Regions from separate parts of the Homo sapiens genome. Here region 1 is linked to region 2. A link means that fine-mapping ties the variant in region 2 to the expression of a gene that starts in the linked region. Tissue or cell type: whole blood. Region 2 holds a variant in brackets; the other region holds the start of a gene. All regions are shown on one strand. Distances are between the middles of the regions.

Region 1 (8,180 bases), 45 kb after region 2:
GTCTCTGAATAACTGAGGGGTGGGACAAATAGTATTCAAAATGATTTGTAACTTTAATGTAAATGATGGCTGTAACCACAAACAGAAGTGGAGGAGGAAAGGGGAGAGAGTGGGGGCATCAAAACCAGGTGCAATAATTTTCATCTTAATATGCTTTTTAATCAATATGCTATTGATTACAGCTCTTTCTGAGGAAGCTGGTCACACCCAGGGGCATAAGGGTGGCGAGCAGGTGACAAAAGGATGCCCTGTAAACTGAAACATGAGTGTGTAAATTGGGGAAATGATTCTGCAAATACAAAGAGAATTTTAAAGTTACTACAGTCTCTACTACCACATGTTTGAGTTCCCCCAAACTCTCCTCCACCCTCGAGTACGCAGCTCAGAGGGAGCTCCACTGATGGAGGGAGGGGCAGACGCATGCACAGATGACTGTGGGCCAAGGGAATGAGGTGAAGGGTGCCTCCTGACTGCAGAAACTACTCCCCAAGCCGCCATCCAGTTCTTCTTCCATGCCTTTTTAATCATTAACTTCTTCCAGACTCCTGAGATTGTTCCCGCCATCACTGCAGACTGAACTTTTTCCAAAAGCCAGTGGCTTCCCCAGCCAAAGTCCAAAAAGGGTCAGAGAAGCCTGCTGGTTTTGAGGGTGGAGGATAAACAGGCCAGAGTCTGTGGCTCAGTTAGGTGTTAGTTGGCCAGGGCCCTCCTGCCTTTTGGACTCAGAGCGGACCCTGAAATTCATTCTGGGTTCACGGGTGCCTCCTCGTGGCTGCCATGCAGCATCTCCAGGTTGAGAGGCTCCAATGGGCCGTCGTTTACCTGCAAGGCTGCACAGCAGGTTCAAAAAGAGTCCCTGGGAGATGCTTCTATCAAAAGGCCCACCATCCTACTAGAAAGCTGCTCCCTCTTCTTCACCTCCTAAATACAGGTGCACAGACCTTCCAAGCCACTGCTCCTTTTGTCACTTACCTAGACTCTCCCCTCAGCACCTCAGGTGAGATGAAGTGGCAATGGCTGCAATCTGAAGTGGCCATGGGGGCTCTCCAAGTGGTACCCTGTCTCCCTGGAAGCTTCCTCCATTGGAAAATGGGTGATGTCAAAGGGGACTGGGGCTACAGCTCAGGGCCTATAAATTAAGCCATGGTAAAGTGGCTTCCCAGGCCAAACCCCAGACCAATCTTGCTCAAGCCATTATTTCCAAAAGGGCACACACCTCATTCAAAAACTTCAAACAGCTCAGTGCTCTCCTGCCGTGCTAAGCCCAAGTCTCAGCTGGCTTTCAAGGCCTTCTCAAAACCAGAATGATGGGCCCAGCAAATGGATTTCAGATTCCCATGGGGTCATTTTTCCTATCTCAGTGACTTTGCTCCTAACTGGTAACCCCTACACTGGAATGTGGGCACACTTCCTTATCCACCAACCAGGAACCTTGTCCAGGGACAGGTTCTGGGGCCAAAATCTCCCCCTATGAATTTTCAGGACCTTGAACATTCTCCTATCCTTTCTCCCACCCACCTCTAGATAGTAGTATGTCTCTTTCTCCCTCTCCTCCCTTTCTCTTACTCACAGACTGCAGGCATTAATTAAACCTCTTCTAGAAAACAGATTTTCACCAGCTGCAGGAATTCTGAGCCAGACCTGAAGACAGAGACAATCTGGGTAAGAAAGATAAGTTCGTGACAGCCAGGGGCAGTGCAGGCTCCCACAGCCAAGTGGCAGTCTCAATTTTAGCCCTTTCCAGATTCCCCCACAAAAAAAGGGGGACATGAGGTGTTCCCACCCCCTCAGCATTTGGCTGTACTGCCTGGGGGTGGCCTTTGACAGAGGCACAAGAGCTGGACCTTGCCCCATCTGCCAGTGGGTTATAGCCACCTCCAAGAGACCAAAGCACTGGCCCAAAACACCAACCTCCCTCCCACCAATAGAGCTGCAAGCCACAGTGCCAGAAATGTGCAAGAAGAGGCACTCCCAGCTCGCCACAGGAAGCAACACCCACTGGAGTGGGGATGGTGCAATCTGAAGTGGCCAGTGGGGCTCTGCAAGTGGTACCCTGTCTCCCTGGGAGCTTCCTCCGTCAGTGGGCAGGGATAGGAAATGTTAAAGGGGACTGGGGCTACAGCTCTGGGCACTATAGGTTAAGCTATGGTGGACTCAACCCTCAGCAGACAAACTTAGTAGCTTCCAAGGGCGCCCACCACCACCTACCCCAATTCTTGAATGAAGACAACTGATTTTCTTCATGGAAATCTTGGAGTCCCCACTGAGGTTAACGACCCACCATCAGAGACTGATCCGTAGATTGCACTCACTGCTCCAAACACACACAAAAATGAGTTTGTCTCTGGTGATATGACACATTAAAAAAAAAAAACTGTTGAATTTAAGGGTAACATTTTGAACAGTGTAGCAAAGTGTAGAAAACATTGGTTGTGAACTCAGACTAATTCACCGGGGCATCCATTTTTTTTCCTCACAAACACTGAGTACCCCTATGTGGTAGACAGGGGGGACCAGGCAGGGACCTGGGGCCACAGAGGTGGTTCCTTCCACCCATCCCTGAAGATGCTCCTGCACAGTGGGGCATCTGACAGCGACTCATCACAGAGCGGTGTAGGGAGGGCCAAGGAGAAGCCCACGGGAATTTCTGGACAGAGAGACCCTACTGAGCCCCAGTATGTCCTTGGGCTACTTATCTAATCAATAGTGAAGTAATATTGAGCTAACTATTCAAGCTGATCAATAGAAAAAAGAGTTACAGATACTGCAGTTCCACAAACACTCGGAGTGCTGTGCTCCAAAGGCCAGGTGGCCCACGCTGTTCCTGGTGCCCAAACGCAGCCTCCCAAGGCATCAGTGAGGATGGGCTGGCCAGGAGCCAATCCCTAACAGAGAAGTTCCCCCTACACATCCTTTCTCTGAGATAAGCAATTAATTTAATCCAAGACTTAATGAAAGCCAGGAGAAGGGATGGGGCAGATTCATACACTGGCTTTCAGGCTGTCCCGTGCATCTTCACCTCTCTCCAGGGACCACGAGGGTTTTTTTTTTTTTTTTTTTTTTGACAGGGTTTTGCTCTTATTGCCCAAGCTGGAGTGCAATGGCGCAATCTCAGCTCACTGCAACCTCTGCCTCCCAGGTGCAAGCGATTCTCCTGTCTCAGCCTCCTGAGTAGCTGGGATTACAGGTATGCACCACCACGCCTGGCTAATTTTGTATTTTTAGTAGAGACGGGGTTTTTATGTTGGTCAGGCTAGTCTCGAACTCCCGACCTCTGGTGATCCGCCCGCCTCGGCCTCCCAAAGTGCTGGGATTACAGGCGTGAGCCACCGCGCCCGAGGCCTTTTGATCCATCTGCTATAAATCCCCTTCCCACAGATGTCCCGATTGGGCACCAACACCTCTGAGGAGGGTAAGTTACTGCCAAGCCCGACCGCAGTCGCATCCCGTTTGAAAGGGTGGGCTCCGCACTGCCAGCTTCACACCCACGGGCCTTCTGCAAATATCAACAAACGGCTCCATTTGTGGAGCACTCTCCGATCCCCCATCCACCCCCCTACACTTCCCCATTCACAGCTCGATCTGATTCCCCATCTCTCCTGATTTTACTTGTTGAATGCTTACAAAGGATCCTTGCCTTTCCACAAAGACACTGGCTAGCCAGGCGGTGATAACCTCACTCACTACAGAGCCCCCTCGCAATCGCTGAACTCACAGCCGAAGCGGGAAAATATGGCTCCACGTCCTGCACCGTGAATCCTTTACCATCCACAGGTACAATTTAAAAGGCAGCTGCGGCTGCAAAGCAGGCAACCTACCCTAAGCAAATCCATTCTCTCTCTCTCTGTGTGTGTGTGTGTGACAAACCCAGCTTATTTAAAAGATCAGGACATAGGCAAGTTCACCAGCAAAAGCAACGTCGTGGGTCTACACCACACGGTCCTAACCTGCGCATCCAGGAATGTTAACCTGCGCTCGGGCGGCCCCGTGGCCAGGCCCGGGACTCCCGGAGGCGTCAGGCTGCAGGTGGCTGCCAAGAGGAGCCAGCCCCGTCTCCGGGAAAGGCCGCGAAGTTGCGGCCGCCTCCTTACCTGGAGACTAGCCGGCTCAGGACCGCCCGGGAAGGGGGATCCCGGGAGCTTGAATCTCGGCTGGAATCCAGCGGCGGGAGTGCGGGGGCCGTGCGGGAGAGGGCTGGAAGGGCGGGGGCGAGGTGGAGGCGGGCTCCGCGGGAGAGTGCGGGGCTGCGGGGGGCGAGGGCTTGGAGACAGAGCCGGGGGTTCGCAGCGGGCGTGAGACGGCGCCAGCTCTGGGAGAAGGGGGCTATGGGGCGGGCGCCGGGGCTGGGACACCGGGCGCACGGGGGGAGTGGCAGGAAAGAGGGCGCAAGTCCTAGGCTCAGGGGCGAGCGCGGGGATAAAGGAGGAGGCTTAGTCGCGGGATTCGGACCCGACGCTTCGAAGCGCCCCCAGCCTTCCCGCCCCTCTCCCACTGGCGAGTTAGGGGGACCCCCTCAGTCTCCCAACCTCGGACCCTGGACGCCCACCCGCCTAGAACCTCTGCGCTGCTCGGCCCCAACGGCAACCGCCCCGGCCCAGGCCCGCGCCGCACTCACCGCCCATGGTCCCAGGCCGGCCCCAGCTCCGTCGCTGCGCGCCCGGCTCGGCGCTCGCCGCCAGCTCCTCCCGGCGCGAGGGGAGGCGAGGGCGGCGCGCACCCGCCACCGGGGAGCTCGCGGGGCCCGGCAGCGCCCCCTGCCGACCCCGCCGCGCCCCGTCTCAGTTCGGCCGGCCCTGCACCAGGAGCCCTGGAGCTCCGCCCCGGAGGCGGTGTTGCGGTGCGGCTGGGCGGGGGCGACCGCGCGGGGTTGCTGAGAGGACACTGCCTCTGGGAGGCCCAGCACAGCCCGGAGAGACTGGTCAGTCTGCAGAGCCCTCGGCGTGCAAAGCCACGGGCACGGACAAGCCGAGCGCGCAGGGACCACGACCACAGACGCGCAGGGCTCTCGCGTGCCTCACAACTCCTGACCTGCGATCAGGGACTGCGCGGAGGCGCGCCAAGGCCCAGGAACACAGCCCTGGCCGGCCCGGGCCCTAGTGTGGGTGCTTTGGGGCCATGTGCCTGCCCTGGCGCCGCTGATGCTATCGCCGGGTGGGCGCGCGCGTCTGGGGTGCGCCTGCTGCCACGTAGACCCAAACTGTCACCCCCCACCCCCCACCCCTTTCGGCCTATCCCACACTCCTCTTCCGGCTCAGAACACATCCGGCCTTGTGTTGCTCTAGTCCTCGCTGCTGCTCCGTCTCCAACGGTCTGCAGAGACCCGGGGAGGTCGTGGCCCCGCGCAGTCGCCCTTCCCACCTGCTCCCGGCCCGCGGCTTCCTTGGAGCCGCTGCTGAAGATCCTCAGAGCACTTGAGGGCTGCCTGTAACGCCCCGTTAGACATCTGATAGGCGAACGGTTGTATTTGGTTTGATCAGTATTTGTGGGTCATTTATTGCAAATGTTAGGTTCCAGCTGGTGGAGATTTCCACCAGATTTCTCTGTGGGAGATGAAACGACCAACAGCGATTATCAGAGAGGTCTTTGCTGTCAGCTCGAGGTCTACAGCAACCCTGTGTGTCCTAGCACAACTAGCCTCAGGCAAAATAGATACGGATTCGAATTTGCTACTATATACCTTTGAGGTGCACCTTTGGGAGGATCTCATCCCTTGACTTCTGCTTTCTCTCCTTGATTGATGGCTCTCAAATCCACACACTTGGCTCAGATATGTTAGCCATATTTCCCCCTACCCTCCGGTTTTTTTCTTAGAACTTTCCTCCTCAAGTTACCACGTCTGGCACTAAATTTTACCTCTTCCAAGCTCCCAACTCCATTTATCCCCGTGGTCTCGCCATTCTCTCAGCCACCTGTCATGCCTTCTTCATCAGGTGCCTTAATGGCTCGTCAGTACCGGACTTTGCTGCCTGTCCGCCTCTGGTATTCCCCCGATGCAGCGCTATCCCGGGCCTTTTTTCTGCCCTGAATACTGACAGCCTCTCCCAATCCATGAGCACAAAATCTTTTCACTGTCCCCTTTGGCATCACCCCCAACTCTCCCACCTGGCCCCCACAGAAGCCCACCGCAGCCCGCCCAACAATGTCTCCTCTGCCCCTTCTGATTGTCCTCTCACGGATTGCAGGCTCTACTGCTTAGCTCACACTGTCACCCTCTTCTCTACATGGGTTAGTCAAGGTGCTTTCTGCTGTAAAAGACAACCCAATTCACACTAACTTAAATCACAAAGGGTTGATCCGCTGTGTACATGAAGAGCCTGTCTGCTTCAGGCCTGGCTTTAGTCCCAGGGTCTCAGGGACTCCCCGTCTCAGTTTTGCTGTCTTCCACATGAACTACGCTTTCATGCGCACATGAGACCCTGGCAGATCCAGGCTCACAGCCTCACAGCTCTAGTTCTAGCAGAAAATCAGCTTCTCTGCCAGCCATTGCAACTAGCCTTGGACCTGGCTTTGTTTGCAGGATTGGGCCACATGTCCATGCTGTGCTCTCAGCCTCTGTGACTCCATGGCAGGTGGGTTCACTCGTGGACACACTATCACCCTCAGCAGGGAGCATGTAGGCACTCTTGGATCCCTTCTCTGTCACAAGGGGACTAAAGGTAACTCAGGGCACCATCTCTAGCCATTTCTCTGCAAAATTTGCCACACCAGCGCTTTGCTTGACAGCGCAGGGCATACTGTGGGGGCAGAGTCTCAGCCTGGAGATAGGACACAGGCCCTTTCTGCTTTCAGCTTCCTCCTTAACCTATCTGAGATCTGTGTCTTTGTACCACCCCCTTCCCTAGGTCCACACTTGGTATAGGGATAGCCTCAGGCCCTCATGGAATCAGGCATCATACACTCCCTAGACTCACATCCTGTTTCTTTACCTCACCTTCCCGATTCCCTGAGGATGTCTATGCTACCTTCCATTCTAGAGGAGGCATCTCCTCCCCCTGTGGACTCTGGGTTCTGAGTGGTACCCACCGAGCCTTAATGGAGAAAGGGGCTATAGGGAAGAAAAAAGAAAAGCTTCCTACAGGGAAAATAGATATGAGGAAGCATCTCAAGACCATTACTCCCACTAAATCTCTTTCCTCCGTGGTTGCTGAAGAGGCAGGATGGCAGCCTGACACAGCTGGGGACCATCTGGCCAGCACCTGGGGAGACTGTGCCAGAGACTGCAGCTGACAGAGGAAAGCAGAGTGGTGAGATAGGCAGGTTTCTTTCTTTCTTTCTTTTTTGTTTACCTTCACAACAGAATGGATGTCATAGGCAGGTTTCTGCTGTGCCTGAATCCCACATACCACTGGATTTTTCAAGTACGTGTTCCAGTAAATACCCCATTTTCCCCCAAGCAAATTAGAATTGGCTTTCTCTGTCACTTGCAACCAAGAGAGTCTTGACTAGTATAAGCCTCTAGCATAGGACCTCACACATTAGTTCCTGTAAAATAGCAACTATCATCACCGTTATTCATATGATAAATGAGCAAGCCATCCTCTTTGGTAACTGTAAACTGTAGAAATGAAAAGTGCATGCAGTATGCTCAATAACTTTTGTCTCCCCTCTTATTCCCAGCCTGCTCCTTTGTCCTTTCCAAATTCACATCTTGACCTCCAAGGAAACCCTCAACATTCATTAAAAGCAGAGCCCACCCATCTTATAAAAATAGTCCCAGACTCACCCAAGTCACGAATATTCCGCTAGGCAGCATTTGCTCCCATGTTACACAAGTGATCCCTTCCTAGACTATAAGCAACTGGGAGCAGGTGTCCAGCTTCAATTCACTTTCAAGCCTTTGAGCAAAAATTGTACAAATATTTGCACAGCCTCCTTTGTCCCGTACTGTAGACTTAAAGAAACAATGAGCTACTGCCTCTACACTTAAAGGGACTTTACCATGGGGAAAGACAAATAGTCTAGGACAGAGACTGAGATGACAGATGACAATACCAGGGAGTCCTCTAGGGGATGGAGGTGGAGTGGTTATTTGCACCATGTTCTAAGTTCCAAAGGCCTGTGCTGCCTGCAGTCTTGACTTATGACAGATTTTATACATCCACACTAAACCTTTCTTCTGTGCCCATCACAGTATCCAGAGAATAAATTTCATTTCAAAATTCCATTTACCATGGGTTTTG
Region 2 (8,180 bases):
CCCTCCCTGCCCCAGGTGGGGTCAGGCTGCCCCTCTTCTGGCTCATGCCCCCAAATATGGCACCCAAACTACTTCCATTTCTACTTCTTGCTCTTCTTCCATTTCTTCCTCTTCTTTCTCTAATGCTGCCACCACTGCTGCCACCTGTGCCAGCTATTCACTGAGGGCTGCCGTGTCCTGGGCACCGGGCCTGTCTCTGTAAATGTGCTGAGCTCCCTGAGGGCAGAGGCAGCCCCAACAAGCGGCCTTTCTTCTTCGACTCCTCAGAAGCCTACTCCCTCCATCACTGCTCCAGCCCAGCCATACCCTGGTCTTATTGTGGCTCACACCTGCCCAGTTCTTTCAGCCTCGGGCCCCCTGCACTTGCTGCTTACTCCATAGGGAACGCTCTGTCCCCGGACCATCACAGGGCTGGCCCCTTCACTTCATGTAGGTGCCTGCTTGTGTACTGCCTTCTGGTACCTGGCACATGATAGAAGCATAAAACTAAAATTTGTGCAATAAATGCTGATCAAAGTGGATGTTTTCTCCTCCTTGGATGTAGAAAAGCATATTTAATTCATATTTATGAATGCAAAAAAGCATTTACTAAATATGGCATATAAATAACTAATAACCTTAATGCTGGCTAAATGTAATACTATGAGGGTTAAAATAGCACCTTCCTTATAAAGCACATGGCATTCACAAAGAGGCAGCTTCTACTACAAAGGCTTTGAGAGTCACAGGGTGTGGCATCGTGGATGGAAACCCTGGGGCAACAAACTTGTGGACCGCCAGCTAGTGCTTGGTTCAGCTCACTGCACCCTGCCTGCTGGCCACAGTATTCCGTTTCACTAGACTAGAATAATGGGCATGCTCCAGGGCACACCACCTTTTAGGAGATCACAACATTAGTAATTTTTAAAGCTGAAGTAGCACCTGGGAAGACAGCAGGTATTGCTCGTGACCCAGATCCCACAGTCCTGGGGGAGTCAGCAGCCTAGAGAGGGTCCCCTTCACCGGGGTTCCTGCTCACTCTTACTCTTAAGTACCTGTTTATAATGATGAGTCAACTATTACTGTTTTTAAAGATTAAATTAATTAAATGACATTAAGTAACTATGCATACTCCACCCTCTTCACACAAAGGATTTAAAGTGGCTTCTAAAAATACAGAATGTTCAATAAAATAAAACTAGGCAAAGGAAAATGAGGGCAGAGGCAGCCAGGCCAACTGGTCCCTAGGAACTGAACCTCTCAAATGGGAGCGCCAAAAATGGCCCCATTAGAGGGTCCTGGCATCACTGTGACAGGGGCCCTGCAAGACGAGCTACAAAGTGTCACTTTTAAAGAACAGCCCTGGCTGTAGTGAGGTAATCCATGGCTCCACCAGGCTCGCCCTCCCGGGGCAGGCTGGCATCCCAGAAGCATTCCATCAAAATAACGTCTTCCCCACTGAGCACTTCATCTCCTGACCTCATTCACTAAACTCTGCTAGAATGTTATGTGCCTCCAGACACATTTGCTGAGGTCTAGCCCAATATTTTATTGCTAACTATGCCTCTAATTTTAGAGCCATGCCATTTCCATACAATTTCCACACTCTGTTCAATTATTTTTCATCCTAAGGGCTTTCAACCAAGAACAGGCTGCCTCTACTCCAGTGAAAAATTAGAAGGGTGAAATAATTCTTACATTTATATGGCTCTGCAATTGCTAACGTGCATTTGTCTGTGTCATCTCACTTACTCTTTGCCCCAACTTTGCATGGGGAGCCTTGTGATCCCCGTTTCAGAGGTAGGAGGCTGAGGCTCAGAGGACACTAAGGGGCTTGCCCGCTGCTCTGAATGGAGCAGGTGAGCTGGGGCGGAGGACTCTTAACTCAGTGCTCACTGTACTGTGTCCCAACTGTTTATTAAAGTGAAAAACATCAGGGTGGGAGGGTGAGCCTCAGACTGGCCTGGGCTCAGTATATCTGCTGTGTTGCTTCAAACAGGTGTCCCCGCCTCTGTGGGCCTCCATCTTTTCAACTGTATAATGGCACTCACATGTAGGACTGCTCTGAGCTCAGGCTCCTGCAAACAGTATGGTTCACCAAGTGTAGGTCCTGTCATTCTCTATCCTACAGGATATAACAGACACTTGAAAATGACTTTTAGAAAAAGTGCAATTTACCTGTTAGCCACCAGAGTGCAGTCAATTTCTGGTCGCTTTGTTTTGGGAATGACATACAGTGGGTACCTGTCTCCGTGGCGAATGAACACATGCACTGAGACCAGCTTAAAATGATGCGGGGCATGACCTGCGCGAGAGAAGCACATTGTCTGGTTATCACTCAATAGGTGTCAATCCTTTTAGAAGGGGGCCAAGGGGATGACCTGGCCACATTTGGGCTGGGAATCTGAGCCGGAGGCAGCAGGGGCCACCGTGGGTTTGCAGAGCCACCACAGTGAAGGGGCCCTGGCTGCCATTCTGGATGGGGGCCACTGAATAGTCTTACAAGGCGGGACAGAGGAACATGAGTAGGCTGATTATGTCCCAGACCTCCTGGAAACAACGGGAGGCTGGTGAAATGCGGGCATGACTACTAATGTGGCCTCACTCACATGCACAGACCAGGGAGAGAGCCACGGAAATACTAGAAACAATGATTTCTGCTTTAAATCTTTCATGAGACCAGAGAAGGCATAAAGAGATCAATAAGGATTCAACACTATGCTCTGATACACTTTTACAAAAGCAAAACTTGTAGAAATTGCCTCACTTCTATGGCAAGACGCCAGCAGGACATCCTGTGGACATCCTGAGTCCCAAGAGGCTACCCTGAAAAGCAGAGTGTCTCAATGTGCTGCACTAGTGCCTGCCAAGGCCACCTTTCTACCTTGCTGCTGTCTCACTAAAGATCATGATGATGGCAAACATTTGTGGTGGGTTGATCGTGAGCCACGTGGTATGTTCAGAGCAGTTACTGAAACCTCCCCAGTCCCAGGCATAAGTCCTGTGAGTTACTCCCATTTTATAGAGGAGAATGCAAGGACCCAGGAACTCATTCAAGGGCACAGCCTGGTGGCAACTGCAGGACTTGGGTCCTGGCCATCTTGCTCCTTACTGCTGTGCAATGCTGCTGGAATAACTAGTCCCCAAAGGGGTATCTGTCCTGGTGGCACAGTCAGGCCTACCTTCCATGCTGCGCTCGGCCACGCTGGGGATGTTGCAGTACAAAAGAGCTTCATAAACGGGGTCTGTCACAGGGGGCTCCGTCACAGGGTCGGGCATGATTCTCTTTCGACTCTTGCTACTCATTCCATTCTTAGGAGTCGACACCGGGATCAGGTGGACTGAAACGAAGTAAGGCAGGTTGTGACGCACAGTTCCTGGGGCGCCAGGCCAGCTGCAAGGCCCAGCGCAGGGCTGGATTTCACTTTGAGGAGCTATTCTTACACTGAGAATCAAGGTGCACTTCAGTGGAGCAGAAGTCAGCTTCCCATTC[A/G]AGAAGGGCTTCTGAGCCCCACTGTGTCCTGCCCCTTCGTCACTGCCACTACCCTCTCCTTATCATCTATTCAACACCAGGGGAGCCTCCCAAGCAAAGGGGCCTCTCTCAGGGCAGTTGGAGGAAGAACTCACACACTAACTTCTTAGGACCTGATTACCTCTTCCTAATGCCCTTTAATTCCAGTAACAACAAGAAGGAGGAAAACCATCATTCCTCATTGAAGACCTGCTAGGTGCCAGATGTGGGTGTCTGACATATCCCATTTATCATCATCTGCTTTATGCTTTGTGGGCCTTCAGAGTCGCTCATCTAACCCATGAGAGCACTTTACAGAAGAAAGCCAAGGACCAAGGCATGTGTGGTGGGTGAAAGCCTGTCTCACGCTTACTCCTTGACTTCAGGCCAGCTTCCCTGCCACTGTCTTCGGCGTGGCATGTGTGGGTCTTGCAATCTGTGTGCTTGTCCATCTACTACCCTCATTCCATTAGTGAGCTGACCCTTCACCACCACGTGTGGTCAGGCTGGACTGTCAATCACAGTGTCCCCACCCCCTGGCAGGGGTGGACATGTGACCAGAGTCAATAAGGGTAGTAATGGGGCAACTGGACTCCCTTTCCTCGAGACAGGTGATATACAGACTCTAGAAGAGGTGCTCTTTTTCTTTCGGATGCTAATCTGTAAGAATGGAAATGTGGGGCTGCCCAGCCATCTATCCCTCATGAACAGCTTCTGTCTCAGTGGTCCCTAATCTCTCCGTGCCTAGGGAATGTCTTTGTAGCATCATAGATCCTCTAGAACTCCCAACACAGTATAGTCATACTTTCAGCATCCGCCCTTTGAGGGAAACACATGAAAATAAGTGTGCTCACAGATCTTTTTAACTTCTAAAAGATTTATTAATCACCATAATATCTACACATGCGCACGAACAATAGCTAAAACAGGGACCAACCACCAGCCTAAATCAATGTAAATTCCCTAATTACTTCTACAAATTCTTCTACATAAATATTTAAAACTTCCCTTTGGCAAACAGATGCCATAAACAAAGATAAAAGGCAACACACTGAGAGAAAAATATTTGCAACTAACCTAACAGACAAATGATTAATATCCAAAGTCCATAAGAGACCCTACACCTGAAAAATCATTAAAGGATATGAACAGGCTAATCGCAGAAAAATAAATACCAATGGCCAATAAACACATGAAGAGATGCTTAAGTTTGTTCATAATTAGATACAGATAAAACAACAGTGTGATACTGTTTTTCATAATTGTTTATTCATAATTAAAGAAATATAAATCAAACAGTGGACTATATTAATAATTTTTCCTCATCAAACTGGAAAATCATGTTTTAATGATAACACTCAATATTGGGAAGGGTGTGAGAAACCTGACGCTTCCAAACATCATGGGGAGGGTGGAAACCGGCACCTCTCGGGAGTGTTTGGCAGTAGCCATCAAAATGGTATATGTGCACTACCCCCGATCTCGTTATTCTACGTCTTGGAATCCATTCTGTATCTATAAAGATAGCGATGCCCACGCACAAAAATGTGTGGCCAAAGAGATTCCCTGCAGTGCTGTTTGTAATAACAAAAAAGGGAAATAACCTAAATATCCATCTCTAGCAGAACAGAACGTTATGTCCCTACTGTGGAATGTTCTATCCCAGTTAAAAAGAAGGGAAAAGAATCAAAGATAAATTAAGTGAAGTGAATACACCAAGTCACTGTATACTGATATAATCCTCTTTGTGTAAAGAAAAAAAACAAACCATAAATGCATAAATATACAGGGATTTGTTTATTACGTAAATGCATAGAAAAAATGTCTAGAAGGTTATCCATCATAACACAGCAGTGGTTTTCCTCTGGGAAAGGATGGAATGGGGTGTGAAAAAGTATTTTTACTTGTTTGTATATTCGCACACACATATACGTACAGTCATGAGTTGCGTAACAATGGGGAGGCACTGAGAGATGGCCCTTAGGCAATTTTGTCATAGTGTAAACATCATAGAGTGCACTTACACAAACCTAGATGGTAGAGCTTTCTACACACCTAGGCTATTTGGTCAGCCTGCCGCTCCTAGGCTACAAACCTGAACTGCATGTTACCGCACTGAATGTTGTAAGCAGTTGTAACACAATGGTAAGTACTTGTGTATCTAAACATATCTCGACTTAGAAAGAATACAGTAAAAATATGGTATTATAATATGGCACCACTGTCATATATGTGTTCTGTCGTTGATGGAAGTCATTATGTGGTACATGACTGCATATGTATTTATAGTAAGCACATATTAATGTATTCTATATGTATAGAAATATATATTTCTGTATTTCTATGCTGTCTAGGTAAGCATTTTTTTTTTTTTTACAGTGAACGTATTTCCCTTCATTACTTGTGTTACCAAAACAACAATCACAGAGATACAGAACTGGTGATTCACCCACCCAACATTAGCCCTTTGGTTGCTCCTAGGGCCACTTTCTTTCCAGTAGTTGGAAGGTGCTAGGATGGCTAACACAGCCCAGGTGTTCAGAGGGAATTCACTACAGGGGGATTAGCACAAGAGCACGGAAATATAGAAAAGTGCTAAGGCAGTCTCTTAGTGACCTGGCCCTTCTGGCTGGCTCAGTCCTTGATTCTGCTCTTTTGTGAAATCTACCAAGTCCTGGCCCCTTGGCCATGCCTGTGGGCACACTCCCTTGGAGTCTGGGCCAGGGACAGAAGCAGCTAAGGAGACAGGATAATATGAGTGACACAGAAATGGAGGGGCACAGGTGAGGACAGTGGGTGTCCTAGAGTGCCCACAGTTTGCTAGTTCATCTATAAGCACCCGGGGTGAGGCCTGTTGTGGCTGCCATTTGGGAACCATGGTGGTTGGGTGCAAATGACCCACCCATGACCCAAGGAAGCAGTGGTTTGAAAACCACAGATAAAGATCAGAATGAGACCTTCTCTCCAGAAAGATTTTATCTGCTGCTTCCTCTGGTATCTGGGCCTGTCAACTGTGTCTACTAGTTCAGAGTGTGAGATCACCCTGTACTATTTGTACCTCCCTGAGTCACCAGGACATAGCATCAGTTCACAAGGGGCCTTCCCAATACCAGGCATTCAAAACAGGTCCTGACACATAGAAGCTGTGAGGAGAAGTCTCCCCAGCTCCATCTTGACCCCAATCCCAACTTGGTTCTCACTGTTCTGAGCTGCTCTGAGCCATCCCACCCCACAGGATGTTTCTCGCCTATGCTCCACCGTTTGCTGGCAACTCTACTCTCACCCTCTGCTCCCGAAATCTGACCAACACTGTAACTGATCCTAGGGTCACCTCCTCCAGGAAGCCCGCCCTGAATCCCCAGTTCCCACATCCTCTTCTATGAGCCTACCCAGTTCCTGCTGCCGTCATGGCTCACAGCATAGTATATGCAAGCAGGGGTGTCCCAGTTTGTCACCCTGCCATCCCAAACATCCAGAGGGCTGGGAGTGTGCGTCTTTCACATTTATATCCCCCGCTGACTGACAGAGGATAGGTCTTCCAAAAATACCTGCTGAACTGGGGCAGACGCTGTGCTCCATGCTTTTGATGAAATATCTCATTGACTCCTCATGTGGAGCACTGAGGGTTGCCGAACCAGTCTGGGGTGAGGGGCATCCAAACAGGCTTCCCAGAGGAGACACCTAGCTGGGCCTGAAAAACTGATGAAGCTGGCTGTGTGGAGGGGAAGAGGAGAGGAGCAGAGGGGAGGCCGTGAAACACAGCCAAACATGGCAGATGGGGGTCAGCAAGCTGGCTCAGGATACGCCTTGGGTCCCGTAAGGCCTGGTCAGGTTGGCCTCACCAGGGTCGATGTGCAGGCCGGGCTCCAGGAGGAAGGCTGGGAAGGGGCCTGGAGGAGCAGACCCCGGGCTGCAGGCCGCCTCTGCCCTGGTGCTGTGCTACTCACCACATCAGCTCTTGAGGCTTGCCCCGATCACCTAGATAAAGGGAGCTGAGGGACAGACCCAGGGGCTGGGGGCAGACACTGCTCCAGGACACTGCTCCTCCCAGCAGGCTTTGCCCAGGCCCCCCGTGCCTCTAGCTGTCCTGTGGAACAATTAGAAACTCTGCTGACCTCAGGCAGATGACAGCAGCTCAGATGTCACAGGGCAAGAGAAAGAGGCTGTGGGGGCATCAGAAAGAATAGTGGGCAGATAAATAGATGGAAGGATAACGAGTTTCATTATGTAGGTGGGAAAACCCATGAATCTAAATGAGTGTCCTGGGGCCACTGTGCCACCAGGACCAACACGAATAACAGGATACGAGATATCTTTTACTGATGATTAACTCTGTACCAACGGGCATGCAATTTCTCTGTGGTGTGATTACCAAGTAGGAGGGCAAATTTCCGTAAGCTACCTTTGGAAATAAGCCTCTCTTTTATGGCGGTGTTCTCTGCTCATCTCATCTACGATCACTTTCATCCTGTCCACACATCTATAACCCTCATGTGTAAAGATGCCGACAAGGTCTCAATTTCAAAGAAATGGCAGAGAACATGACCTCTAAAGCATCTCCTTGGGACCCTCCCTCTCAAAAGCAACCAACAAATTTCTTAGAATCATGAGTAAAACAACCAGATGCTATCCCACGCAGGCTCCCTCCCCACCACCCTTCCCCACCCCATCTCCCGAATGCACAGTGGAT

Evidence for each region. PIP is the estimated chance that this variant, and not a neighbour inherited with it, causes the effect.
Region 1: PXYLP1 starts here. The variant in region 2 is fine-mapped to the expression of PXYLP1 in whole blood (INTERVAL, PIP above 0.99).

What each region holds. Positions count from the first base shown.
Region 1 is chr3:141,228,347-141,236,526 of GRCh38, reverse strand. It overlaps PXYLP1 (2-phosphoxylose phosphatase 1), which reads right to left and starts at 4,702. Exons shown (of 6, transcript NM_001037172.3): 1 at 4,616-4,702. RefSeq lists a silencer at 4,584-4,963.
Region 2 is chr3:141,273,482-141,281,661 of GRCh38, reverse strand. PXYLP1 (2-phosphoxylose phosphatase 1) reads right to left here. Exons shown (of 6, transcript NM_001037172.3): 3 at 3,162-3,320; 4 at 2,158-2,284. Among named protein-coding and RNA genes, the nearest start is that of PXYLP1, 46 kb to the right of the region's middle. RefSeq lists an enhancer at 7,667-7,836. The variant A/G (reference allele first, on the strand shown) is at 3,473.